Homo sapiens: one gene and its partners. The protein of the gene in region 3 interacts with the protein of the main gene of each other region in a biochemical or structural test. Each region holds a gene or a part of one and is shown on either strand. Other genes may lie near its edges.

The links.
Region 1: the proteins of SPI1 (region 3) and ETV1 form a complex in vitro, tested with the Homo sapiens proteins (one study listed by BioGRID).
Region 2: the proteins of SPI1 (region 3) and RUNX1 form a complex in vitro, tested with the Homo sapiens proteins (one study listed by BioGRID).
Region 4: the proteins of SPI1 (region 3) and IRF2 form a complex in vitro, tested with the Homo sapiens proteins (one study listed by BioGRID).

Annotation. Positions count from the first base shown.
Region 1 is NC_000007.14:13,895,649-13,902,673, forward strand, and holds part of ETV1 (ETS translocation variant 1), read right to left. Parts: intron 5,192-7,025; coding exon 5,090-5,191; intron 440-5,089; coding exon 218-439; 3' UTR 1-217. UniProt on the Homo sapiens protein: Transcriptional activator that binds to DNA sequences containing the consensus pentanucleotide 5'-CGGA[AT]-3'. Required for olfactory dopaminergic neuron differentiation; may directly activate expression of tyrosine hydroxylase (TH).
Region 2 is NC_000021.9:35,039,280-35,046,304, forward strand, and holds part of RUNX1 (runt-related transcription factor 1), read right to left. Parts: intron 148-7,025; exon of another isoform or gene 1-147.
Region 3 is NC_000011.10:47,354,536-47,361,560, forward strand, and holds the end of SPI1 (transcription factor PU.1), read right to left. Parts: intron 5,506-7,025; coding exon 5,318-5,505; intron 4,472-5,317; coding exon 4,309-4,471; intron 1,012-4,308; coding exon 692-1,011; 3' UTR 325-691; downstream 1-324. UniProt on the Homo sapiens protein: Pioneer transcription factor, which controls hematopoietic cell fate by decompacting stem cell heterochromatin and allowing other transcription factors to enter otherwise inaccessible genomic sites.
Region 4 is NC_000004.12:184,471,530-184,478,835, forward strand, and holds the start of IRF2 (interferon regulatory factor 2), read right to left. Parts: upstream 3,022-7,306; 5' UTR 2,850-3,021; intron 1-2,849. UniProt on the Homo sapiens protein: Specifically binds to the upstream regulatory region of type I IFN and IFN-inducible MHC class I genes (the interferon consensus sequence (ICS)) and represses those genes. Also acts as an activator for several genes including H4 and IL7.

The DNA of each region.
Region 1 (7,025 bases), on a different chromosome or scaffold from region 3:
CACAGAATAAATGTTTAGATTACTCCCACCCACCCTCAAATAAAGTGCACAGTCCATGGCAGACCATAGAATAATGCAACAGGAAAAGCCCCTTTTTGTGTATTATTATTTAAAAATAAAATACAAACAACAGAAATAAAACAAAGATTCAGCAATTCTCTGTATCTTGCAGAAAAAAGGAAAAGCGCAAAAACGCCCTGCTTGACTGTCACTTGTGTTAATACACGTAGCCTTCGTTGTAGGGGTGGGGGTTGCAGCAGCCCCCTTCCGGCATGTAGGCCATGCTCTCATCAAAGTGAGAAAGAGGCACTGTGTCCTCCTCGTTGATGTGACGTTCCATGTCTGTCTTCAGCAGTGGACGCTGATTATCTGGAAAGGCCATGGAGAAAAGGGCTTCTGGATCACACACAAACTTGTAGACATATCTCTCTCCAGCCACCTGATGATAACATGGAAGAGAAAAACCCATCCTCACCATCGCCAGATGGGGAAGGACAGGAAGGAAAAAGCCAAAAACGTGGTTTAATATACAGGAAAGGATGGGTAACTCTGGCCCAAAAAAGCAAACAACTAATAGCAGATACACATAAAAAAAAAAAAGTCTTTACTTTGTGGAATAAACTACAGTTCAGTCAAGGGAGATGCAAAATGTTGACCTTGAATAATAATTAATTAATTCCAGATATAGCTAGGAAGCACAGGAATTTGCTTGTCTTAATATAGAGGTAAACTTACATCGTTGTTTTGAAAAAAAGTCAATTATTTAATGCAGGCATTTCATATTGAAAGCTTTTTTTCTGCATTTTAAAAGGTAGTATCTACAAATCTGTACTTTTAAGGTACACTGTCCCTCTTAATATTACATATCTGAAATGGTAGAAAAACTAAATTCAAAATTTAAAAGAAAAATGTGCTTTATTCCCAATAAGACTAGACTAGTAATTCACTGATTCACAGAATAAATGGATTCTTTACTTTTTTTCTTTTTTGGCAGTGTGTGTTGAAAGAAGAAAGAAAGGAAAGAAATAAAGAAAGAAAGAAAAGAGAGAGAGAAAGAAAGAAAGGAGAGAGAAAGAAAAAGAAAAAGAAAGAAAGGAAAGAAAGAAAGAAAGAAAGAAAGAAAGAAAGAAAGAAAGAAAGAAAGGATACACAGCCTCATTTAAATGAAAGATGGATCAAAAGGACAGTATCCTGGGTACATCACTTTTAAAAATGAAGGCAAGATGCATTAGACAGAGTTAAGGATGTGTGTAAAGTGTCAAATTGAAGTAAGAGGTGTAAAAAAGTGAAAGGAATTTAAAATACACAATGCACAGGGAGGAAATGAGAAAAAGAAATGTGACAACTGCCTGGAATAAAGAAGTAGCATAATTTATAGGGTATGACATACCCCAAACTTAAATTCTGAAGAGTAATGCTTCCCTAGAAAATTATAAACAACTGAGTGAGATGAATACGCCTCTTGTTAATAGACAATGCTGAGATGCTCTCAAAACCCGGGGTGGGGGGATGGGTGGATGAATACAGTTCTTTCTATTAACTTTGATAGTCACTTTGTATGGGTGTGTGTAAAGGTATGAGATTTTAGAAAGCTGAAGGTGACACAACACCTCCATGTTCCTGTATATCAACAAGGCATTTGCTAGTTGATTTTTGATGTGGGGCAACAGTGTGTTCCTGGGTTATAAAGTATTGTTATATCTTTGAGGGAAAAGTAACAATTGTCAATGAATGCTGCTGCTCTGAATTCAAATTTAGAACATTTTTTGTTTCTTTTGCCCTGAATTTAAGTAAGAGGAACCACTTTAGAGAATTCAAATAATCTGAATGTACCTAGGTTTGAAAGAATGAACATTTAGTAGTTTTTATGAATTTGGACCTGTTTCTTAGACTACCTCTCAGTGGCCTTTGCTGTGAAATGGAGACAGGAATGGCGCCTCAGAAAGCCCATTGCAAGGTTGGGATGGAAGTCTCCAGCACAGAGCACTGTGCCAGAAACAGAGGAGTCTGGCATACATTTATTTACTTTAGTCCTTCATACAAAGAAAATTAAGATCTTAAAGGTGAAATGATGAAATGACCATAAACATAAAAATAGCACTATCAGGAACAAAGCTGAGATAGTAAATCCTAGTTTTCCTTTATTTTTTTCTTTGTTCAAAGTATTTGGAGAAAAAATAAAATAAAATAAATGGCCTGCATACCTCTGAGTGTTTTATAATGTGCTTTGTTTTGTTTGGGGCTGTGGAGGAAGATACATTTGCTTTAAGTACTGGACTTCCTTTGACGGGTTGCTACTGGCTATACTTAAAAATTATGTAATAAATGAATTAAAATGTGTAACATGCAATCAAGCTTATGCAATCTCTCAAGGACTCTGCCTTTCCTCACTGCTTCCTTCTGTATTGCTTTTGAATAAACATTTTTAGGGCTACTACTTCATTTGCTGGACTATGTTAAATGCTACTGAGTTTAGAACAAGGGATGATAACCAACCAAGGGGAATGATGTCTTCCATTATGAGTAACAGAAGTACTAACGTGCAAAATGCTGTACATTAAGTATAGCCAAAATGCAACACTGAGACAGACAGAAAAAACAGGAATTTTTCCAGGGAGATAAATCAAAAGTAAACAAGGAGATAGCTTTAGAGCTGTGCTTTCAATGGCTGGATATTCAAATTATGTTTTATCTCTTAAAATTTCAGAAGTAATATGGGGATACTGAAGGATAAATTAGAAATTATCAATTAAGTTAAAACAAAGGGTCTATAATTATATCATCCAGAATATAATCACCATTAACATATTGGTATATATTGTTCTAGGCATTTCCTAATTTTGAAATAGAAGTACACATAGGCATTGTCTGTAAGGTAAACATACACTGTTCCATTGTTTCTTACTTCTTCCGTATTACTAAAATTAATTACCAGTTTTCAATTTTTTTAACATGTTCAGATGTAAGTTATTTTTATTTTTCTCTAATCTTCTAATTTTCTATATTATATACACCACATATGCCCACAAAGTTTTAAGTTAGTGAACAAATATAGCCATATAAATATTTTCTCCTACATGTTAAAATATATAATTCAACATCATAGTTTTTGCTATTTAAAAAAGGACAGCATAGTTTTCCTCTGAATGACTATACTAGAATTTACTTGAACATCAGAATGGTACATATCCGAGAATGTGATTAGCTGGGTGCAGTGATGCAAACCTGTAGTTCCAGCTACTCAGGAGGCTGAGGCAGGAGGATTGCTGGAGCCCAGGAGTTCAGATATACTTTACATTGTGCCAGTTACAATGTAAAGTATCTCAAGTACATTATTTCATTTAATAATCACAGCAACTTTAATGAGGCAAGAATATCACCATTTACTAGGAAAATAATCTGTTCAAGAATGTAATCTGGTGAGAGGCTAGCATTCAAACCTAATTCCTGACTGCCTTATCTGTTACTGCTGTGCAATACTGCCCGGGGACACTGCTGAGCACCATCTGTGACAGCCCAGGCAATGTGCCCCCGCATTAGGAAGATGGTGGTGAAAAGAAAGGAATGGAATGTATTTGAAGGATCTTACTACAAAAAGGTAGGTGAGAGAAAGGGAGGAATTAGAAATGACCCCAGGGTTGAGATGAAAAAGACAGGAGGAGCAGGTAGTAAACTGTTATACATTTTGAAGGCATGATTGAGAAAACAGGAAGCAACTGAAAATCGAAGTCAGCCTTTTCTTTTAAGGATCATGGAAGTTCTAACGTCTGAGCCAGCAAATTCTAGGGCACTGAGATAATATGCCTCTTGTCAATAGACAATGTTCTAGGAAAGTCAACAGTGCTATTTTTCGCTGCTCTAATAAGCTTCATGTAGCAACTGGTCTAGTTTTTCTGGGTAAAACTATGGTGACATAAAAATGTGCCACAATCTATAACATGTAACTATGTTTACAAACCCTAAAATAAACAAATGATACAAAATAAAACTGTAACGTTCACAATAGGTAAATCATAAACTTGGTTCACAGTCAAAGCAATTAGATTTCTGTACACTTGCAAAGCTAAAGGGTGTAATAAAAACAAATATCCACGTTTTATCTTCATTCATTTATTTATTCCTTTCTTCAAAAATGTTGTATTTTATTTTAAGTGTAATTCACTTGTTTTTTCTCTACTCTTTTTTAAAAAGCTACTCTTGGCTGGGTGCATTGGCTCATGCTTGTAATCCTAGCCCCTTGGAGGCCAAGGCAGGCAGATCACCTGAGGTCAGGAGTTCAAGACCAGCCTGGCCAATATGGCGAAACGCCATCTCTTCTAAGAACACAAAAATTAGCTGGGTGTGGTGGTGCGCACCTGTAGTCCCAGCAACTTAGGAGGCTGAGGCAGGAGAACTGCTTGAACCTGGGGGACTGAGGTTGCAGTGAACCAAGATCACGCCACTGCACTCTACCCTAGGCGACAGAGCTAGAATCTGTCTCAAAACAAACAAACAAACAAAAAGCTACTTTCAAATATTATGGGAAGCTCATTTGAAATAAAATATATTGAACTTCCACAAACCAAATAAGATCAAATGTTCATTTTTAATGAATGGTTTAGGATGTCAAACTATCAGATGATAAAACTAGGCAAGATTTGAGGCAAGGAAGAAAATGTTTTCACAAATGAGAAAAAGAAATGTCTGTTTTAAGAATCAAAACAAGAAAAAAGTACAAATTTATTCTAAAGATTCTTTATTGCTATAAACAAAAGCATTCCAAAATTATATAATTGTAGACAATGTGCAATAAAAACTTCTGAAGACAGATGTGCTATTAATACTAAAACAATCTTTTTTAACCATGTGCAGCAAAGTAGGACCTTCCAGAAAGCCTATTATTCTGTATACAATATCACTACACATTTGTCTACAATGTCTAGGCATTTATACATAGAAAGGCTTGTAATACCAAAACCAAGAGCTAAGCATTTGTTAAAATGAGTGAAAAACTCGCTTCAGCAATGCAATGATATGTGGCGTTTAAAGTATGATGTTCAGATTAATGTGCAACATTTCAATGAATTTTAATGCTGTATTAGCTGCTCACCTTTTGCATAATTCCTTTCTCATAGTAATAGCGGAGTGAACGGCTAAGTTTATCATAGTTCATAGCTGGCCTGTTTTTCTGAATGCCCCAACGTCGGGCCACCTGCCGCGAAACAGAATTACATTGTAGTGTTAAGTATTAACTTATCAGCATATTTCATAAAAATTATTTAATTAATTACTTCCAAACCCACAAAAATGTCCAACTCAAGGATATAAGTAAAGTAGCAAGAGCTATCGTAATCTGGATTTCCTGTCTCCTGGTTTGCTTTTTTTTTTTTTTTTGAAACAGAGTCTTGCTCTGTCACCCAGGCTGGGAGTGCAGTGGCGCGAACTTGGCTCACTGCAACCTCCGCCTCCTGTGTTCAAGCAATTCTCCTGCCTCAGCCTTCTGAGTAGGTGGGATTACAGGTGGGCCCCACCACGCCCGGCTAATTTTTGTATTTTTAGTAGAGGTGGGGTTTCACCATGTTGGCCAGGCTGGTCTCGAACTCCTGACCTCAGGTGGTCCACCCACCTTGGCCTCCAAAAGTGTTGGGATTACAGGAGTAAGCCACTGCGCCTGGCCTGGTTTGCATTTTAAACCAGGCGTGCAGTGATCCTTCTAAAACACCACAATAGAATTATTTGTCACTATTGTTTTGAATACAAAATTAAATGGAAATAAGGAAATGTTCTTACAACAGGAATGAACAGGCTACAGTTCACCAAAATGAGGCACGTTTTTCATTCTGAGATATACTGTCTGTTTTATCCTTCTTGGTTTTTCAGACAAAAACTATAGATAAAGAGCAGCTTAGTGATCTCCTTGTAAAGGTGTTTTACTGAGGTTATGATAAGCCAAAGGAAAAAAGATACCCTGCTCAATACTATATGAAAGAGTGAACAAGTGACAATGTGTGTAGCAGAGGAAACAGTACACAAATTAATAAACCGAACTGCAAATACTTTTTATTGCCTAAAGCAGCAGCCGAATAAAACTGTGGGTAATACCAAACTGAAGAATTAAGCATTCATTTAGAGAACGGTAATTGGATGCTAAAAATAAGAAGGAAGTGGAAAAGGTCACCATGTATATGAGTCCACAAACAAAAATCTCTAAAGCAGAATGTCTACTCTGTTGTTTAATAAAAAAACTCAGAGCTTTTTATTATGTGGCTTTGGAGGAGCAATGTATCTAAGAGTTTTTCAATAGAGCTTTAAAAAAAATCCTCTCTCCTCAATGTATATATATCCCTACCTCATCACCACCCCAGGCTAGCCAAAGCAGTATACAGAATAGTGTAGCTTGCTTTTCCTACCCCAGCTAAAGTCACTCTCTCATTAATTTCCACTTTTTATTAGTCTGAGAAGAAACTGCAGCTGCCACGCAAACCTAGGCAACCCCAAGAGGACATTATCTAATAGGGCTAGGGAGCGCCTTCATTTCCATAAAATTCCAAGTTGTTGCTATGTCATATATACTAAAATAGATTGCTTTTCAAAGAGATCATTCTGTCTCTCTTTGCTTTATTAGTAATAACCTTTCTCCAGGTTTTTTTTTTCCTTTAGAAATACCGATCCTAGCTATTTTCCCTCTCAGTAATTTTTATTCTCTGAATGAAGAAATAAAGTACTTTAATGACATGCATCAGTATGTTTTTTAAGAGTAGAGAGATGCGATGTAACAGGGACAACATCATATATCCCAGCAGACAATCACAGTGGCAGGAACATCTCAATTTCCCAAAGATAAACTTCATTTTAATGTAAATCTTCTGAGCAATAGTGAATTGAAGCGGGGGTGGGGGCGCTGGGGGGAGGCAATAAGAAATGAAAGCATTTTCTAAAGAATATTTCATTCAAAAACCTAACTATGGACATCAGTGAACCTTTAATAGGCATAGCAGCCGAACTATATGCAAACCTGGAGGGGATGTGAAAATAAAGTATTAGTA
Region 2 (7,025 bases), on a different chromosome or scaffold from region 3:
CTGAGAAGACCTGGTTTCTCGTTCGGACTCTGGCACCAACCAGCTATGGAACCCTGGGCAAGTGAACCTCTCTGGTGCCCTAAGGTAGAGAAATGTCTAAAAATCACTCCAGCCAAATATTCGGCTCTTCCTTTCTAGCAGTTTAAAAATATTTATAATTATAGATTTTAAAAAATAAAGTTATATAATTTTTAGATGCCAACTGAAACTATACAGAACTATATATATACATAACTCTATATAACTCTATGACACAGCACATAAAACTTACAAAGCATCATATAGAACAATGTCTCATAGTTCATATGTCTCAGGGTTCACTTATTTTTTAAACAGATTTATTCACATCTGTAATACAATTATTTCTTTGTTTTGAATACAACCTGGAGGGAAGCATATGGGAGACACAGCCTTTATTTAAAAAAATGAAGTAATGATATGGAATGATTGACAGTTGGATAGAATTTTCATTGTCGGCACTTCTACTTCTTTATATGACCCTGCACCTTTCACAGTGCTAATATTTGTTTAAGGTTGCTTAACGTTGTTCCTCTCCTCTAGAACTTTGGAAGTAAAAGCCATTCTCATCTTTAGAAACAGTAGATTCAATAATAATAAATAATAATAAACTAGAAGCCTGAGTTTCTGTTCCTACCTGTCAGTCAATGCCTAAATAATTTCATTTTCACCCATTCACCCATTCATTACATGAAAGGGGCTGGGATAAGAGAGAACACTCCTGAAGGGGAGGACTACTTTTTCTCCTCCTTTTAGTTCCTACCCACTCTTGCATGGGTTTTATACACATATGTGGTTTCAGATTTTATGAATTCTATACTTTCAAAGTGGGTGAATGTCAAGTTCAGCTGTGACTGTTACCGAGCTGGATGAAGCTGCCCAGATGCAGCCTGCAGATGGTGTGGAATGAGGGGCTCAGTGCACAGAGTTCAAAGTGCAAACAGAAGCTGTGTAAGAAAGTGCAGCAAACTGTGGTTGGTGTTAAAACTGCTCCTGAAAAAAATGGCACTCAAACCAATGTATCTTAGTTGACCTAAACTCTCTTTTGCACATTCTGGGGCAGTAATAAGAAACAAACATTGATAGCTATACATATTATAAAATTTTGCACAGTAAAAGGGGAAGTGCTTCTCTCTTGAGCAATGAGTGCCACTCTGACATTTTTTGTCTCCCTTAAAAAACTCACCTAGGATGGGCCGGGTGCAGTGGCTCATACCTGTAATCCCAGCATTTTGGGAGGCTGAGGCGGGCAGATCACGAGGTCGGGAGATCGAAACCATCCTGGCCAACATGGTGAAAACCTGTCTCTACTAAAAATACAAAAATTAGCCGGGCGTGGTGGCACACACCTGTAATCCCAGCTACTCAGGAGGCTGAGGCAGGAGAATGGCTGAACGTGGGAGGCGGAGATTGCAGTGAGCTGAGATGGGGCCACTGCACTCCAGCCTGGTGACAGAGCTAGTAGACTCCATCCAAAAAAAAAAAAAAAAAAAAAAACCAACAACAAAAACTCACCCACAATGGAATGTGACTATGGAATACCCTGCGGTGTGTTCAGAGCTCTGACTTCTGTTTGCTCTTTTTAACATAACCCCCATCTGGCAAGCTGACTGCTGCAAGATTTTCTGGGTCTTTCTTTAGGATCTACTAACAATGAAAAACATATATATGAAAACCTACACATTTTCAGAAGCACATGAGAGCTGATCAAGACCCACGTACCTCCCAAGGAGAGGAGATGACAGAGGCTGCTCTGTGGTGTTGCTCTCAGGCTATATTTGATTTATTGCTCAAATCTTATTATTTCATTCTCCATTCGAGACTAGCAAAGTTTCTTTTGAGAAGTCACAGTCTCTACGGAGGGTATTCTAACGCCCAGAAGTAAAAGTTGGATGTTGGCAAAGAAAGCAAAGTAGAATCTTTGCAAAATGTTGGAGCTGCATAGTTCTCTCTCCCAATGGACATGTTTCAAGACTGAATACGTTGAGTATTTGATTTAGAATCAATTTAACATGAACTTCGCATTTATGCAAAGCAGCATCAGTCCTGAGATCAGCAGAGCGATTGAGCAAGCCCAACTAGCAAACTGAGATTTCTATTTGTGATGACCTTTCCCATTTGAGGCCCCAAAAATGTCTTGGGGAACTCATTGTTTAAAAAGAAGTCCATCAAAAAATGGACACATATGGACCATGGCATGGGAGGGCAGTGCTGCATACAAAATCAACAATTCTCTAAATGAACACCGATCTTGCAGAAAAACAAAATGAAAGCAAAACAAAAAGAAATTTCTAATTTCAAGAGAAAAACTGAATAACAACTTTCTTTTCATTCATCCTTTCTTTCTTCTTTTTCTTTCTTTCTTTTTTTTTTTTTTTTTAACGAAGCAATGACTTTCTCAGGGAGAAAGATTTGCATCCATGCTGAGGAAATAGACAGGGCCAGTAATCACACAGCAACAATCATCTGTAACTTGCAGAAATTCAATGTATGAATAAGTGTTTAAAGCCTAGATAGAGGGCAATTATCTGGTTATCTGTTTTTCATATTTCTATCAGAGATAAAAACCTCTTTAGGGAAATTTATGAAGGGCCATTTGAAAGAAGGTTTCCCTCTTTTGTAGAAAAGAATTCTCTTAAAAATTAAAACAAATTTGGGAGGCTGGGGGATTTTTGAGAGTTTAAAAGAGTGAGGAAGATGGGGGGCGGGAAGCAACTATTTCCAGCTGCGAGAAACCGATCAACCTCACAGCAAGGTGTGGTGGCTCTGATGCAAGCAACATTCCCATAGATACAGGGCTGTCTGGTTTTCTATTGCTCATTCTAACTTGAGGAGACGCTCAAGTGTGATTTGGGGCTTTGACACTGAAAATAGGTGTGAACTTGGATCCATTTAACCTAGCCCCTTCCCCCACCTCATCCCTTCTCCTGTCCAGTTTGCTTTCAATGGGTCAACAATAAATATTCACCCTTGGCATCCATCTGCAACTTCCAAGAGGGAATGAAGGAAGAACATAAAGTTTCTCTGCATTTGTTTCCAAAGCCCAGCTGGCACAGAAAACAAATGATACAAGATATGACTGGGAAGGCACACAGCCTGTCTTTGTCACCAGGTCTGGCAGATGTGGCTCTGGGTTCACGAGACATCTGCTCCCAGCTACCTTCCTCTCTGCTTCCCTCCACTCTCCAGGCTGGAAAGTGACAACTCCATTGTCCTCAGTTCCCTCCAGCCAGAGGCCTGTGACCTAGTTGTGGCCTAAGCAATATGTCAGCGAAAGTTTGCAGAGAAGGGCTTCCCTTCCTGAATAAAAATACCAGGACCCACAAGAAGGGGTTGAGGCCTCCCATGTCCTTTCTGCCTGGACAGATCAGAGGTGCAGGCCATCTCTCCCTGGCCTCAGCATGGTGGGACCAAAACATAGGAGTGTCCTGCACCCCACCGTATCAGCCTGGACTGCTCACTCTGGAACTCCTGCCCGTCTGCTCAAGCCACTGTGGTCAGCTTTTCTCTACGTGCAGCCAAACATAATTTTCATGGGTAAACCTGAGCAAGGGCCTTACTCTTTCTGTCACTGCAATAAAATACATAATTTCCGTCATGTTTCGGATTTAGTGTTTATTCCTCCACCTTGGCTCCTTTCTGGCATCATTACTCAGTGTTATTGCAAGATGAGGGAGGGAGAGAAAGAGAGAGATTCAGAGAGCCAAGAGAGTATAACACGTGTCTCCCCAACAAAGAGTGAAGCCTGCGCAAGTGAGAGCAGTGTGTCTGAGCTTATCCTCCCAGCATGTTGAAGGTGACAGGAGGTTTTGAGCCCTGTTTTGTGTTCAAGAGCCAGCCTGTGTTCTCGTAAAGTACTCCCTGATTGTGTTCACGGTCAGCAAAGATCTCAAAGGAAATGCTCCCTTTTTACCACTCCAGGACATCCTAGTTATTATATTTTATGAGAGGGAAGAGGTCAAGAAAGACATACCTCTTTGCCTTGGCTGGAGGCTCAGCAAAAAGGCTAAAGAAGGGGACTGGTGGCATCTGATGGGGAGGAGCAGGGGAGGCCGAGAAACAAGAGTTGTGGGAAAAGTGCTTTGAACATTTTAATATCTGTTCAGGCACCAGTGTAGCTTCTGAAGATTTCTTGAAAAATGGGAGTTGGAGAAAGCAATTACGAAAATGAGGGAAAATATCTTGCATTTGTGAAATGATGGGAGAACTATTTTCTAAACAGAAAATAAAATATTTTTAAGTGGCTTTGTGTTATTAAGCTAAGAAGATTTGTGATGTGTTTTATGGTACCTCTTTCTGATGCATGTAAAGACTTCCAACAGGAACTTGGTAATTTAGATGCAAGCTTGTCTAGAATATTATTAGCCCATTTTGCAGAACTCAAATGAGACACAAAGACATCTATTGACTCATCTAGGTCACTAGGAAGTTACCTGAGAAACTGAAAATTTGCTTGAGTTTCCTGTGTGGGCCTCCTCTGCTGCCTCCAACAAGACAAGCCATCAAAGCTACCTTCATGTCTGGGCTTTGACAAAGTACATGATTACAAATGTTCCCAAGGAGCAGGGAAAATGGGAGTCTCTCAGAGGCCCAGAGAACCTGCTCAAAGGTATACAGGCAAAATGGCCTTTTCCTTAAGAAGAGCCTTGGAGAAAATAAAGCTACACCAGCAGTCTCAATGAAAAGAGACATCTCTGTTGTCCTTGTGTGTTCAGATCAAAGACTTAGCATGACATCCTGCCCCAACTAGCCTCCATATTTAAAATCAAAACTTGTTAAGTTGAATTTCATAAAGGGCTCTCGTTCTTTTTCCACAAGGGAAGGAAGGCTGACCTGCTGGTGAAAAGCCCTTAGGGTGGACTGAGTTACCCACTGCTGTCCATGCCCATGTGGGATCCTGCAGCTCTAACTTTGCCCAGGCTGTACTCTCGGCCTAGACCACTCTTCCTTCTTTCCTTTGTTCCCAACTTCCCCTCCCCCAACTCCTGTGTCCCTCTCTCCAGGGAGCCTCCTGTAATGTCCTCCAGGGCATTGTGACCTCTCCCTCCCTAGAGCAGACAGCGGTTGACTGGCTGCCTTCTTAGATAACTGAACATTGATAGCCACCATTCAGATTTATTGCTTACTTTATATGGCTGGGCAAAGCACCTTACACAGATTAATTCGGTCCACACAGCTACCTTAATAACAGGTACTATTGCAATCCTTACTCTGCAGATGAGGAAACTAAGGCTCAAGAGAGAAGTTCTATATGCTATTTGATGAAAGCCAGAAAAAAGAAAAGAAAGAAAAGGCCATCACTGTGTCATCTGAGCACATTCCCTGCACAGACCTCCTGCCATTGCTTTCTCTAATAGCAGGTGCTCTTATGCCTCCAGACTCTTCTCTCTAGGCCTTGGGCTCCTTATTAAAGTCTGTGTGTGCACAGCGGCTGTGCAGCCGTCCTCTGTCCCAGCATCTCACCAGGCTTGATTTCTCAGTAAAGGGCTACATATTTTCTGAGCACATCTTTCGGATCTATTTTGAGAGAATGTAGGAACGTCTCAGCTACTCATTTGCTTTCAAAAGCTCAGAAAGGCTTCTTGCCATTCAGAATCGGGTCAGTTGCTGTTTCCAAAGGTGCTTCTGCTACTGGTTGCTCCATGCCCCTGTACTCGGTGTGTGAGCAGCTGTGGGGCCTCCTACAGCCCCCTAAACCCCACTAATAAAGTCAGTCTGAAGTACAAAGACAATCCTCCCCAAGAAAGCAGAGCCAAGAGGAGGTTTCTTTGGGGCGGCTGCCATTTGCTCTTTTAACACTTAAACATTTCAAAATTACTCGTCATTTTCTACAGTTTCTTAGCGTGCAAAAAGTCTAAATGGCAAAGGCATGATTGTGAGTTTAGATAGTTTTATCACACCTTTTTTTTTTATAGTTTCAAAATGTGTGGGCAGTTTCAGATGTGAAACTCCATCTCACAAAGGAGGAACTACAGTCTGATTCTTTAACATCCAAGAGAGCAGCCAGGATGCCCCATCCCACAGTTTCCTTGTGGGCCAGGGTGGGTCAGATTTGCTAAGACCCACTGTTAGGGACTGCAGTATGTCTCCCTAGAATTAATACATTGAAGTCCTAACCCCAAGGTGCTCATAATTTGACACTATTTGGACATAGGGTTTTAAAATGACGTCATTAGGCTAGCCCCAATACAATGCAATTGGTATCCTTATAAGAAGAGATTAGGATACAGACACACACAGAGGGATAACCATGTGATGAAACAGGGAGAAGGGAGCTGTCTGCAAAACCAAGGAGAGAGGCCTCACCAGAAATCAGCCTTGCCGACACCTTGATCTCACACCTCCAGTCTCCCTCCAGAACTGTGTGAAAATAAATTTCTGTGGCTTAAGCCTGAAGTCTTAAGATCTTAAGTGTTCAGTCAAGCCAGAAGAAGTGTCTTAATAAATATTCTTCTGAAAAGAGCGGCAAGCCGATGCTTAGAGAAGAACATACTTTATACATGCAGCTTTGTACTTGGCAATTCCCTTTGAAAGACTGCTTCAGTGGGGTAAACTTGAACCGCTGAGAAGACAAGCAGGGAGTCGGTCTCGCTGAGATTTTTACCTGTGGTTCTAGGAACGCAGAGGCATGTGAGTGTTCAGGCTTTGCATAGACCACTAAGCCACTTCTAAGAACAAGGCTACCTGAGCCATTTTGCAAAAATATGTACGTGCCGAGGCTTTTCCTCCCCACACCTACCTCAACTCTTTCTGCCGACACACTGCACTTTTCAAGGGAACCCAAGTTTGGGTTCGGCAAGAATTGTACGTTGCACACCGTGTGTGATAATTCCAGGGAATTTCAATCGCATCTTGTCTTCCTTCCTAAGCAAATTCGGTGGGAACCTGGTGTGGTGTGATAGAAAAAGCCCCGAGTTCTCTGTGGTAGACCACATCAATTTCATGTGCCAGTCTCTCAGACTCCGGCTTGCCTCTCTCAAGGAAGGGAACAATGGTTTGCTTGGCTT
Region 3 (7,025 bases):
TGCTGGTCATGGTCATCATCATCATCATCATCATCATCATGAGTTCAAACCTCATCAAGGCTTAAAAACAACAACTATCAGGAGTAGAGAGCTTTTAAATAGGATCTGCTCTCCTAATCACAATTGAGGACTTGTTCTTTCCACCAAACTCTAACTCCTGTTCAGGCGCTCTGTGTCATTGGTCCTCATGTTCCCAGGGTCCAGCATTGGGTACAGTCCTCGGTAAACACCCGATGGACAAATGACAAAAAGAGACGTCGCAGCACACAGGGGCCAAAAGAGATACACAACAAATTTTAAAAGAGACTCTGTGCTGCAAGAGGATGGATTGAGAATAACTTTACTTGTTTTTTGGGAGGAGGTTAATGGGTGGGAGGGGTGAGAGGGGAGATCTGATTTACATACGGACTTGAGACTCCCAAGGCAGTACCCCGGGTCGTCCTCTGCAAGGTTGCCCCGGTGGGGTCTGACGCCCAGCTGGCGTCCGGGAGCCGGGGTGGAGTCCTGGAGGGAGGCGAAGCGGGATGTGGAGGGGGCCTGGAGTGGGGGGAGGGGGCGGGTGAGGCGAGGCCCGGCCCGCCACAGTCCTGCCTCTGGGCCCCGGGAGCGTCCTCCCTGTGTCCGGGCCGGGCGAGGGCTTAATGCTATGGCCAGCGGGGAGGCCTGGCGGGGCCCGGCGGGGGCTGCGGGCTCAGTGGGGCGGGTGGCGCCGCTCGGCCAGGCCCCCGCGGCCCAGCACTTCGCCGCTGAACTGGTAGGTGAGCTTCTTCTTCACCTTCTTGACCTCGCCCGTCTTGCCGTAGTTGCGCAGCGCGCGCGCCATCTTCTGGTAGGTCATCTTCTTGCGGTTGCCCTTCTGGATGCCCCAGCGGTGCGCCAGCGCCTCCTTGTGCTTGGACGAGAACTGGAAGGTGCCCTTGTCCTTGTCCACCCACCAGATGCTGTCCTTCATGTCGCCGCTGCGGAGCAGGTCCAACAGGAACTGGTACAGGCGGATCTTCTTCTTGCTGCCTGCGGGGGGGAGGGCCCGGTGGGAGGGGGCCCGGGGCCCACATGGGAGCCGCCCCCACCGCCTTGCGTACGCACAGGGGCCCGGGGACGGGGTGGCCGGGAAGGGCAGGGGAACGGCTGCCCCAGCCCGCGCCGGGCGTGCATACACAACGCACCCACACTCACACACACACACATGCTTGCGCACACACAGGCGTTCACACACACCCACTCACACCCACGCACTCACCCCCCCCACGCGCACACACTCGCACCCACACAGTGCACCAAGTACACACACATGCTCACATCCACATAACGCACCCACACCTCCTTACACATGCTCACACATCACGCCCACACCCACTCACACACGTGCTCACACAACGCACCTTCTCACACCCACTCACACTCATGCTTAAACACAATGCAACCACTCACTCATGCTCACACCCACACACGCTCACACGTACAATGTATCTGATCACACACATGCTGTCACACACATGCACACACAATGCACGTGCTCACAGACTCACACCCACATGCTCACACACATGCTTGTGCAATGCACCCAAACGCCAGATTGCACCCACACCCACCCACTTGCACATTCACACCCACATCTGCCCTCACACACTGTCACTTTCTCACACACCCACACAATGCACCAGCTCACACTCACACACATGCTCACACACTCATTCACTAACATGCCCCCACACACTGGCACCCACACGACACACCCACTCACATGCTTGCACCCACCCACATGTTCAAACCCACACTGCATCTGCTTACACATTCACAACCCACTCACACACACCTGGTCACACCCACTCATGCTCACACCTCATTCACACCCACTCACATGCACACTCACACCCACCCAATGCACCCACTCACACACATGCACACACACTCAGACCCACTTACTGCCCCCACACACGGTCACACCCAATGCACCTTCTCACACTCATATGCCCACTCACACCTGCTCACACACACCTCACACCAGGTTCACACACTCATGTTCACACACCTGCTCATACACCTCACACCAGGTCTCATAATCACACCTGCTTATACTTGCTTACACATGCTTGCACAAACACACCTGCTTACACATCTTACACTGCTCACCCTCACACCTTACATTGCTCACCCTTGCACACACATGCCCCTGCTCACACACACATGCTTACACCACACCATTCACTCACACATATCCACTCACATATGATCGCACCTACCCACACCTCACACACACTTGCACGCACACACCTGCTTACACACATCTCACGTTACTCAGCCCCACACGCACACACCTGCTCACACACATCTCACATTACTCAGCTACACACACACGCCCCTGCTCACACACTTGTGCTCACACACCTCACACCATTCACTCACGCACACACCCACTCACACATGCTCACGTCTGCTCACACACATGCTCACCTATCCATACACACACTTCCTCACACACCTCACACCAAGTCTCACACACACTTATGCTTACAAACTCATGCTCACACACATGCTAACACTTCACACATGCTAACACCTCACACATTCACACCCACTCACATGCTCACACCTCACACATGCTCACACCTCATACCTCACACACATGCTCACATCTCACACCCACTCACACACACCTGCCCACACATATCTGCACACACACATGCTCACACATATGCTCACACATCACACATACCTGCTCACATACATGCTCACACCTCACAGCTGCTCACTTATCACTCACACGCTCACACCAGCTCTTTCACACCTCATTGACACCTGCTCACTCATATTTCACACCACTTACACTTGCACCTCACACCTGCTCACGCATGCACATACATTCTGCTCATGCATATCCACTTGCATGCTTACACGCCTGTTCACACACAACCACTCAGACACCTACTTGCACACTCAAATGCTCACACACATTCTGCTCTCACATCCACTCACAGCAGCTCACACTCATGCATGCTCACACACACCTGCTCTCACACTCACACATCACACCCATTCTCTTGTTTTTGAGATGGAGTTGCTCTTGTTGCCCAGGCTGGAGTGCAATGGCACGATCTCGGCTCACTGCAACCTCCACCTCCCGGGTTCAAGCAATTCTCCTGTCTCAGCCTTCCAAGTAGCTGGGATTACAGGCGTTCACCACCACGCCTGACTAATTTTTGTATTTTTAGTGGAGACGGGGTTTCGCCATGTTGGCCAGGCTGGTCTCGAACACCTGACCTCAGGTGATCCGCCTGCCTCAGCCTCCCAAAGTGCTGGGATACAGGCGTGAGCCACCACGCCCGGCCCACTCACACCCATTCATGCTCACACACTCATTCACACACCTGCTTTCACACATACACATACCTGTTCACACACATGCACACCTGCTCACACACGCAGGTGCTTAAGCACGTCCTCACCCCCCACACACACCTGCTCACACATGGGAACACACACATGCTTACACATGTTAAAACACATATCCACTCACATACATGCACAGACCTGCTCACATATACACATACATGCTCACACACCCCAGCTCACACCTTCCTGCTCACACACACCTGCTTACATACACCCTCAAACATGTTCACACCCACTCACACATCCACTGACACACACCTATGCCCATTCACACACACTTATATCACACACATCCCTGCTTACATACACATTCACACATATACACTTGCTCACACACCTGCTGTCACACCCCCACTCACACATATCACTCACACATGCCTGCTTACAGCCACTCACATATACCATGCTCACATCCCTGCTCACACAGGCACACCCACACACTGCTGACACCCACTGACATCATACGTGCACAGCTGCTCACACGCACTGAAATACATTCATGTGTTGACAGACACACAAACATGGCCACACCCACTCTCAGCCACACCAGCTCTCACATTCACCTTCTCACACACCCACTCACACAGCCACTCGCACACATGCACCTGCCCGTACCTGTGCACACGCACCCTCTGCACACTTGCTCACACACACCCAGATGTACACACACTCATGGCACAGAGAGACACACACACCTGGCACACTTCATGGAGATGCCCGTATGCACTACACAGCAGATACACACACACAGAGACAGCCACAGACAGCCCCACAAAACACACACACTGGCAAACATGCACACACACACACACGCGACTCGGTGGCGTGGCTGCTGGGTCAGTTGGCCTGGCTGGGTGGGGGCAGGGCACAGACACGGCCAGGGTCGGGGCCAGGGTGGAGGGCCAGGTGCCCCACCTGTCTCCCCAGGCAGGAGCCCAGGCCCGGGCTCCAGGCCATCCGCCTCGCCGTCAGACACCTCCAGTGGGGGGCTCTGCCGCTCGCCCTCCTCCTCATCTGAGCTGGGCTGGGCTGGGGACAGGGATGGGTACTGGAGGCACATCCGGGGCAGGTAGGAGACCTGGACGGTGGGGGAAGGAGATCAGAGTCAGGAAGGGCCAGCTTACAGCTCAGGGGGGCTGGGAGGGAGGTCAGCTGGGGAGAGAAGGAGTGCAGAGGGCAGGGGACAATGGCAGGCACAGGAGACTGGAGGAAGAAGACCAGGGAAAAGGGGGGCCAGTTGAGGTGCTGCACATAGGGTGCAGGCTGTGGGGCGAGGGGTGCTGACATCCAGCCCACCCAGCCCTCCCAGCTGGGCCTCCTGGTTTAGGACTGTGGGCACCGGGGAAGTGGTGCCTTGTTCTCCTCCCTGCAGCGGTGCTGTGTGGACCCGCATTAGGCTGGGGTCAGAAGAGGGCATGCTAGGGACCGGTGCGTTGGGTCTGGAAGGGGGTTTCATAGGTGGGATGATGAGTGAGTGGAGGGACCCTGGAGGTCAGTAGGGGTGGTAGAGGTCAGCAGAGGTCACTGATCCGGGTTAGGGTCAGTAGGGAGGGTCACTGGGGAGAGGCAGGGTCAGTAGAGGTGTTCAGTGACTTGGTGTGGGATCCATGAGGGCTAGTGAATGGGGGTGGCAGACAGTGAGGCCCAGGAGGGCCCACAACAAGGCGTTGGGATGGGGAGGCTTGGTGAGGGTGCGAGAATTATCTGGGGTCTGTCCATACTCGGGGTGAGATGAGATAAGGGGTGTGGGGTCATGAGGTCACTTGGGGGGTCAGGCGGCAGCCGTTGGAGCTCCAGCCGCCGTTGGCACTGTGGGGCAGGAAGCTGAGTTGGGTAAGAGCCTGTGTCAGCTTCCTGTGAAGCTCCCGGGCCCCACCACAGGCCTGGCAGTCTCCTGGGGGACGGGGCAGGCGGTGGCATGCACCTGGTGGCCAAGACTGGGATGGGGTGGCACCATGGGGGTATCGAGGACGTGCATCTGCTCCAGCTCCATGTGGCGGTAGAGCTGCTGCAGCTGCGGGGGCTGCACGCTCTGGAGCTCCGTGAAGTTGTTCTCGGCGAAGCTCTCGAACTCGCTGTGCACGTGGTGGGGGTGGAAGTCCCAGTAATGGTCTGTGGGGGACAGCCAGGCAGTATGGGGTGAGCTCAGGGTTGGGCAGGGCAGGAAAAGGTTATAGTAACATTAAATAATACTGCCAGGCCATATGGGGCCTAACCATCTCGTTTAACCCTCGCCACCTGCATGGTTACTCTAGGCCTGCATTTTATAGATGAGGACACTGAGGCTTCGAGCGGCTACATAGCATGCCCAAGGTCAAAAGCATCCGGGTCACAGCCAGGACTCAGGGCTGAAGCAAAGCTCGTGTTCTCAGCAATTCCATCCTGATTCCTGTGCAGTCACACAGACCGAGCGTCTAATCCTGGCTCTGCCATTTACTTGCTGTGTGACCTCAGGCACATATGTGGCCTCTCTAACCTCAGTTGAGTTGCCTGTAAAATGGGGATCACAGTTATTGGGAAGATACGAATGAGTACACATTTGTAAAACACCTCGCACCAGAGCCGGCCCTCAGGGAAAGTTGATTCCCCTCCTATCCTGTTAAAACCTCCCAGCCAGGGCCGCGCGCGGTGGCTCACGCCTGTAAACCCAGCATTTTGGGAGGCGGAGGCGGGCGGATCATGAGGTCAGGAGATTGAGACCATCCTGGCCAACGTGGTGAAATCCCATCTCTACTAAAATACAAAATATTAGCTGGGCGTGGTGGTAGGTGCCGTAATCCCAGCTACTCAGGAGGCTGAGGCAGGAGAATCGCTTGAACCCGAGAGGTGGAGGTAGCAGTGAGCCGAGATTGCGCCACTGCACTCCAGCCTGGCGACAGAGTGAGACTCTGCCTCAAAAAAAAAAAAACTCGGCCGGGCGCAGTGGCTCACGCCTGTAATCCCAGCACTTTGGGAGGCCGAGGTGGGTGGATAACGAGGTCAGGAGATCAAGACCATCCTGGCTAACACAGTGAAACCCCGTCTCTAGTAAAATACAAAAAAATTAGCTGGGCGTGGTGGCGGGTGCCTGTAGTCCCAGCTACTCAGGAGGCTGAGGCAGGAGAATGGTGTGAACCCAGGAGGCGGAGGCTGCAGTGAGCCGAGATTGCGCCACTGCACTCCAGCCTGGGCGACGGAGCGAGACTCCGTCTCAAAAAGAAAAAAAAAGAAAAAAGAAAAGAAAAAAACCTCCCACGGGTTCCTGAGCTCCCTGGCTGCCCACAGTCTCTCTCTCTGTCTCACACACACACACTCACACAGCCTTGTCACATGGCCAAGGTGTGACAGCAGAGTCACAGGGCTGACATTCCTCACACACTAGAACTTGTCCAGGCACACGGTGGCCCTTCCTCTTCAAAGCCATGACCTTAAGCAGTGGCACCTGTGTTCCCGTGAGGTTCCTGGGACCTGAGACTTTCCTGGAAAACCCCCTGTGGGTTCCTTGAGTCTGTGGTGGAGGAGACTGAAGTCCGGGGAATAACCCCATGCCACCAAAAGCCCTGTCTTGGAACTGGGGAAGATCTTCAGCATGAACACCTTTTCCAGGAACAAAAACTGCCACACATCTGCGGGACTTCCTGGGCGCAATTCGG
Region 4 (7,306 bases), on a different chromosome or scaffold from region 3:
CAGTGGTTTTTCACTATCAAAAGGATATTATGTGAAAATGCTCTAAAAACAACAGTTTTGTACGAGATGATGTTAAGAATAAAAATATAACATCGTTGGTAACATGAGAAAATTGATGCACATCAAATGTGGAGCATCCAAAGTGTCTATTTTTCCAGTAAGTTTAAACATCTTTTGCTCTGGTGCACTATTTGCCTAATAAAGTGTTTCAGAAAGTGGGATAAAAGTGGGACCATTGTTCATAAGGCTGTCAGAACTTCATGGCACGCATGTGTTTGCCATAATTTGCTTCCAGTTTGACTACAGATCCTTACTTTTGATTATGCTGACATTTTTACAGGTAAGTAAATCTGAAATAACTGGAACTTTCTCTAACAAAAAAATGACAACTCACTGAGAATGAAATATGTAAATGTTTAATTTTAACAAGCAGTTACAAATCGTAACAGACAAGAACTCTTGGATCTAAGAGACCAAAATGTAATTTCTTACATAACAGACAAAGTTACAAGTTATAATCGTTCACTAATTACAGTGAAATTCCGGACTTTGACACATCAATCAATAGATGTTCCAACGTTCCCCCTAGAGATCCCAGTTCAAGTCTTAAATATTTCATCTGCTGAAGTTTCCTCAGAAAAGGCTCCTTTTCCCAGGATTTTTTAGGTTTCTACTTTTGCCCCTTCTCCCACTAAAAGAAGAATAAAGGAAAGTTGGGGAAATCAGAGAATCCTGAATCTGCGTGCGTGGTGAAGTTAAACAGAGTCACCCTCTGGGCCTGGTAGGGATAACTGCATCTGCCTAGCATCAAGACTATCCACCGCCTGGTCTAACCCCAGACCCCGTTGTGCACCTGCCCTTAAGCACCAAAAACTGAACTGCTCAAAGAGAACCTGCAGTCGATATGAAAACTAGTAAATGACTGCAGGCTTGACAGCAGTCTCGGTGATGCCTGAAAATCCACAACAGGAAATCTAACTATCCTCCATACCTCCTGGCCATTCATCAAAAGCAGACCGAGTCACAGCCATAAGGAGGCCGGTGGCTGAAGACGAATGCCAGCACCACTTTTCCTCATTTAGAACAACTGAGTTTTTTCCTTCCATAACCAAGGACAAGGAGCAACCGGAGGGAGGAGGTTGAAGAGGGAGGGGGCGGGCAATATGTCCCCAAGTTTCAGACAGTAGCGGGTCAGAAACGAGCGAAAGCCACCTCGCTCTTCTGAGCTACCTCGGCCGCCAGTCCCCGGGATCACATCCGCAGCCGAGCGCCAAGGGTCCGGCCTACACAGACTGACCCGGGCGTTTCACCTGGTGCCCGACCACGGCTCTGGCGCCCTGCCCAGGCTGCCCGCCTCCTTCCCCTCCCCCGCTTCTTAGGGAACAAGGAGGAGAGGGTGGCAAACGCACCCAGACCGGGGGCCAAGGGGAGACGCCGGCGCGTGCTGGGAGGGGCATGAGTTACACCCGCGACCCTTGGAACTTGGAACGGCTTCCCCAGCCCCGGCGGACGCCGGCCCCCAGGCCGTGCCACTGGGAGCAGGCGGGCGCCGCGATTGGCCGCGGCCGGCTTCACTCGGTGGGCGAGCCCTACCGGCGAGGCGGAAAGGAAGTGGCGGCCGCCGCGGCTTTGCACCAACCATGTTCGGCCAGCGGGCGAATGTCACCCGGCGCCCGGAGCCGGGTCGGAGGGCACGGGGCGGGCACTCGCGTCCCCACCCCGCCGCGGCCCGCGCCCCGGGACCCCGAGGGGACGCCGGCCCCCACTGCGCCGCTCGGTCCCCGGAGGCTCCCCGCCCCCACCTCGCCCGCTCCGTAGCCGAGGCGGGTCAGGCCCAGCGCGCGAGGCCGGCCGGGGGCGCCTGCGGGGACCCGGGGGCGCACGGCGCTAGGCCGCGGCCCGGGCGGCTGACCCCTCGGCACGGTGCCTTCCTGGGACGCGCCGCCCGAGCCCCTGGCGCGCTGGGACAAGTGCAATGACAAAGCCCCAGGGCCCGACCGGGCGCTGGCCGGCGGGAAGGAGGACGCGGCGTCCCTTCTGAGCGGCGGCGGCGGCGGCCCAGCCCCCAGGAAGCAGGGCGCGTCGGCCAGGCCCGGCGCCCGGCCCGGCTCCGAGCCCGCCCTCCCGCCCCGGCCGCTGGCACCCGACGCCCGCGACCCGACCCCGAGCCCGGCAGGCAGGCGAGCCCCTGGACCGCCGCGGGGCGCCCCAGCAAGTTTCCTCTGGCCGTGGCTGGAGGCGCTCCTCCCGGCCGGGGAGCGGTGCCTGCTTATTTACGCTGGAGGCAGCCTGGAGAGGCGCCGCCGCGGGCACCGAGAAGGACCCGCTCCCCTCCTTCGGATCCGGTGGCGGCGGTGGCTGCACACACACACACGCGCGCACACACAAACACGCACATACACACAATTTTGTTTTAAATGAGGCCCGACTCCAGCTGACCTGCACCCCCACACACAACACCTGGGGCGCAGAAGCACACACAGCAGGTCTGTGTCCATGGAGCCACCTCTCCGCATCTGCAAATCCAAAAGTGAAATTAAACCTCCACCAACCTCCTCCTCCTCCTCCCTCTCTACCTCCTCCTCCTCCTCCTCCTCGCAGCCTCAGCAGCCCCAGTAGCAGCAGCAACAGCAGCAGAACCTGCTTCCCCTAAAATCAGATGATCCATAATTGCGCCGACTGTTCCTCCAAAAATCAGTATTAATATTTATGAACCCCGGCATTTTCCGTCTGCAAAACATCGTGTCAAGGCATCAGGACACGCATACACACACGGCCCCCCACAGTCCCCAGAAACATGCCCTCGAGAGAAACACACACAGTCACAACTATTATTTGAAAAATGTTACCTCTCAGTGTGCTTTTTTCACGCTACCAATACAATTCCGCAAGGTATAAGTGTTGCTAGGGTATGTGAAATGGAAATGAAAGCCCGTCAGTTGAATAATCGCAGGAGCAAAACTAAAAGTTACTCCCCGGCTTGCCTGAGAACAGTCCAGATCGAAAGCAAAACAAGGAGAGGAAACTGCGAAGAGCCGCGGCTGGAAATCCCCCCACCCCCCGCCCTCCTCCGGCCGCGCTCCCTCCCTCGCCTCCCCTCTCCGCCCTCCTCCCTCCGCCCTTCCTCCCCAGTGTTTGTTTCAAGCTTGTGCAACCGGGAGGTGGAGGCGGAGGGAGGGCGCGAGCGGCCCGGCCGGGAGGTGCGGAAGTTCGCCGCAGCAGCTCATTGGCGGGCAGCGCCGCTTTCATCATTTCTCGGAAAAGTCAATTTCATTTTCGCTTCCCCAGGTCGCGGCGGCGGGAGCAACAAGCAGCGGCTCGTGAGTCCGCGGCTCGCACCCAGGGGCGCCCGCACGTGCGGCTAGAACGTCCGAGTCGGGGTCCGGGGCGGGGGGCGCAGGCCCGCGGCGGTAGGGGAGGAGAGCGGGCACCCGAGTCTCCATCCTCAGGGTGGCCTGAAGGTTCCAGGAGGGCGTCCGGCGAAGGCACGGGGCTGCGACCATCCAGTTAGCAGGGCTGGTGTGACTGTTGAGAGTAAATGAAAATTCGTTTTGTGACACCGACCACCTCCAAGGAATGAAAGGAGCAGTCAGCCGAAACGACAGCATTACTTGCGTCCTTACCTAATTGGAACCTTATCCGTGGCTGAGGGTGCCACCATTGGAGGGGCCGCCGCCCCCTCTGACACCACCTGGCGCTCCGCTCCATTTAGGAGCTAGAACGAAAAGGAGGCCCATCCCCCAGTAAGTCACAGCCCACGCCAAGATGAGTTCTGGAGCCTGTGCGACCGAAGTTTCTTCACCGCAGGGCGAGGTGGACAAGGGTGTGAGTTACTTTGACTTCAAGACGTCTCAGTGGCGGCTGGTTCTGGAGAGAGGCTTTATGCTGGAGCACTTCCAGCAAAGTTCGGCTGGGGCCTCCTTAACTCACTGGCTGGTCACCCTTGGCCTCGGTTTTCAACCAAAGCCTAAGGCCTCAGTTTTCAACGCTGTAAATGGAAATAAATGAGAGAAGAAAGTACAGCCCGTGTGACAAGTGCAGCAAGCAATGCAACTTCCTTGGGACCTACCCTTTGTGGTCCCTTGCTTTAAAAGTATAGATTCACATTTAGTTAGACCTGTTTCTTCCTCGCATGCAATTTCACCAGTCTTTTCCCAGACTTCTGTACTCAACAGAGGAAGTTCCTTCCTGGGAGACCATAGCTGTTTGTATGTAAAGAGTTGCGAAAAAACAAAAGCAAAACAAAAAACTCCAACACCTCTCTGTCACAGAAGTATTGAATTATATAGACTGGAAAAATGGAAGTATCCAAGAAAACGCGTGTGGTAAGAAAATGGCTAAGGTGCAGGATTCTGTTTTGTGGCTCTGGTCTCAGAAATAGACCTCACATACACATTATTCCTTATCCCCTCTATTATAATACTCACTTTTTTTTTTTTTTAAGAGACAGGGTAGGCCGGGTGCAGTGGCTCATGCCTGTAATCCCAGCATTTTGGGAGGCCAAGGCAGGAGGATCACCTGAGGTCGGGAGTTTGTGACCAGCCTGACCAACATGGAGAAACTCCATCTCTACTAAAAATACAAAATTAGCCAGGTTTGGTGGCGCATGCCTCTAATCCCAGCTACTTGGGAGGCTGAGGCAGGAGAATTGCTTGAACCCAGGAGGCGCAGGTTGTGGTGAGCCGAGATTGTGCCATTGCACTCCAGCCTGGGCAACAAGAGCGAAACTCTGTCTCAAAAAAAAAAAAAAAAAAAAAAGAGAGGGTCTTGCTCTGTCACTCAGGTTGTGCTATCATAGCTTACTGTAACCTTGAACTCCTGGCCTTAAGCGATCCTCCTGCTTCAACCTCCCAAGTAGCTGGGACTACAGGCCTGTGACAGTGCCTGGCCCAGGCACTGACTTTCTTATGTCATATAGCAATGACCACTAAGGGAAAGTCTATACAAACTATAGAATAGTTGTCATTCTTTACCCAACCCGGGACACAAGTTAAAAACCTAGTATTCATTTTTTTTTTCCTGTACCAAAACAATCATCTTCCTTTATTTTTCCTGGAGCGGGAAGAGGAGAGTGGAGAAGAAGGGAAGAATGCAAAGTGTCACTTTGAACTTCTCGTTCACCACACACGTGGGAGTCCACTCATGTCAGCAGCCTCCGTGCACAGGCCCCAGGTGAAAGAAAGAATGAGGTCTAGTTGGACCAGCTAACACTGCCTGCCTTGTGTTTACGAAAGGCAGCTGCCTCTGTGGTGTGATTTCAGGGGAGCCAGACAGGGCCGGGGCCACGAACCTGCATCCTGCATCCTAAGCACCTATTGCCATGCGTGAGGCTAACTGGAAACTCACTTGCTGGGTGCAGATAGCTTCCAAACTATTGTGATGCTCATGCTTGACTTCCCAAGGAACGTGTTTCAGGAAAGGCCATTGCCCTCATTATGGTCTTTGATAAGCAGGAAGAAGTTTGTTGTTCCTTTTTTTTCTTAATGCCCTACTTCGTGCAACATACATCCAATCAGTCATATCCTATTGACGCTACCCCTAAATATCTCTGGGCCTGGCCCGTGCTCAGGGCACTGCCTTCATTCAGTTACTGCACTTGCCTGCTGCCTGTGCTCCTGGTCTCCTGCTTGGACTCCCCCAGGCCAGCAGCCACACTACTGCCAAAATCCAGTCGAAAATTAACTTCAGGTAAAGCACAATTCCAAACCTAACACTGCCCCCCTCAAAAGCCTCTCTGTAGCCTTCAGAATAAAGACCATATTATTTGACAAGACACATAAAGTCCATTGTAATCTGGCACCAAACGACCTTTCCAGCCTCATCTCCTGCCATTGTGTCCCACAAGCCCTACATCCCTCCCTTGCCAAACCAGCCTCCGCTCCTTTTTGTCAAACAACAGAGCTGTCCTCTTGTTCATTGTTTTATCTTTAGCATGGTGCCCAGCACACAGGCACTGAAATACTTGTGAATTAATAATTACTTGCTCTTTTCATCAGGCTCTCATAAAATATTTTAGACTTGATCAGAGCCTTGTTTTATATTTTAATAGCTTTTTAATATAAATGTAATTAATGTTTCTTGTACAGAATTTGGAAGATGCAAGAATGGTGAGAGAAGAACATAAGCCACCTGACATCTCACTAGTCAGGAATAGACCTGTGGATATTTTTATGTATTTCCTTCTAGTGATCTTTCTAAGGGACCGTTTCCAATCCGCATCTCCTCTGTCTGTGTGTAGGATTTAAGAATGCTGACTGTGCAGGCTGCTCTCCACGATGCCCATGTGACAGCCTGCTGTCCTATTCTAGTTCTTGGCCGGTTCCTCGTCTGCTGCCAGCCCCCTAAATTATGGTGTTTCCAGGCATTCTATCCTCAACCCTCTTATTTTCTCATTCTACATGCTTTATCTTTGGGTGTTCTCCTCCACGCCCAGGGCTTCAGATATCACTATTTGCTGATGACTCCAAAATCTGTAACTTCTGAGCTCTGACCACATTAACTCCTACACATGTCTCAGGTGCAACAAATTATACATGTCCCAAGTCAGAGAGAACATCTTTTCCACAGCCTTGCACTGTTCACTTCATTGATTAGCTGGGAAACTGGGAGGACTCACAGACTGCCCCCTTTCCTGAGTCCTGGGGCCTCCCTGAAGCATGGGTGTTGCTTGCAATTTTCCAGGCCCCTAAACTCATAAAACATAGACAGAATGAATTTCTGTTCTTAGGCCCTTGATGACATGTCACTGCAAACCAAAAATGTACAAATGAACCAAAACAGCCACATGGTACTGATATACACAGTCAAGAAGTATCTTAGCCCTTTGATGAGATGCATATAGTAATAAATCTCTGTGGAAACTCCAGCCTTTTTGGAAGCCTGGGTAAGAAAGTAGGCTCAGTGGCTCACGCCTGTAATCCCAGCACTTTGGGAGGCCGAAGCGGGTGGATCATGAGGTCAGGAGATCGAGAACATCCTGGCTAACACGGTGAAAACCCGTCTCTACTAAAAATACAAAAATTAGCCGGGCGTGGTGGTGGGCGCCTGTAGTCCCAGCTACTCGGGAAGCTGAGGCAGGAGAACGACATGAACCCGGGAGGTGGAGCTTGCAGTGAGCCGAGATCACACCACTGCACTCCAGCCTGGGCGACAGAGCCAGAGCGAGACTCCATCTCAAAAAAAAAAAAAAAAAAAAAGAGTAACCTTTGTCATACTGAGGAAATCTGACCAAACACTTCAGTCTAACGTGAAAAAAGTTGAAGGGTCTTTTATAGTGAAACTAGAGTCATCTCCTGGATGAAGCATG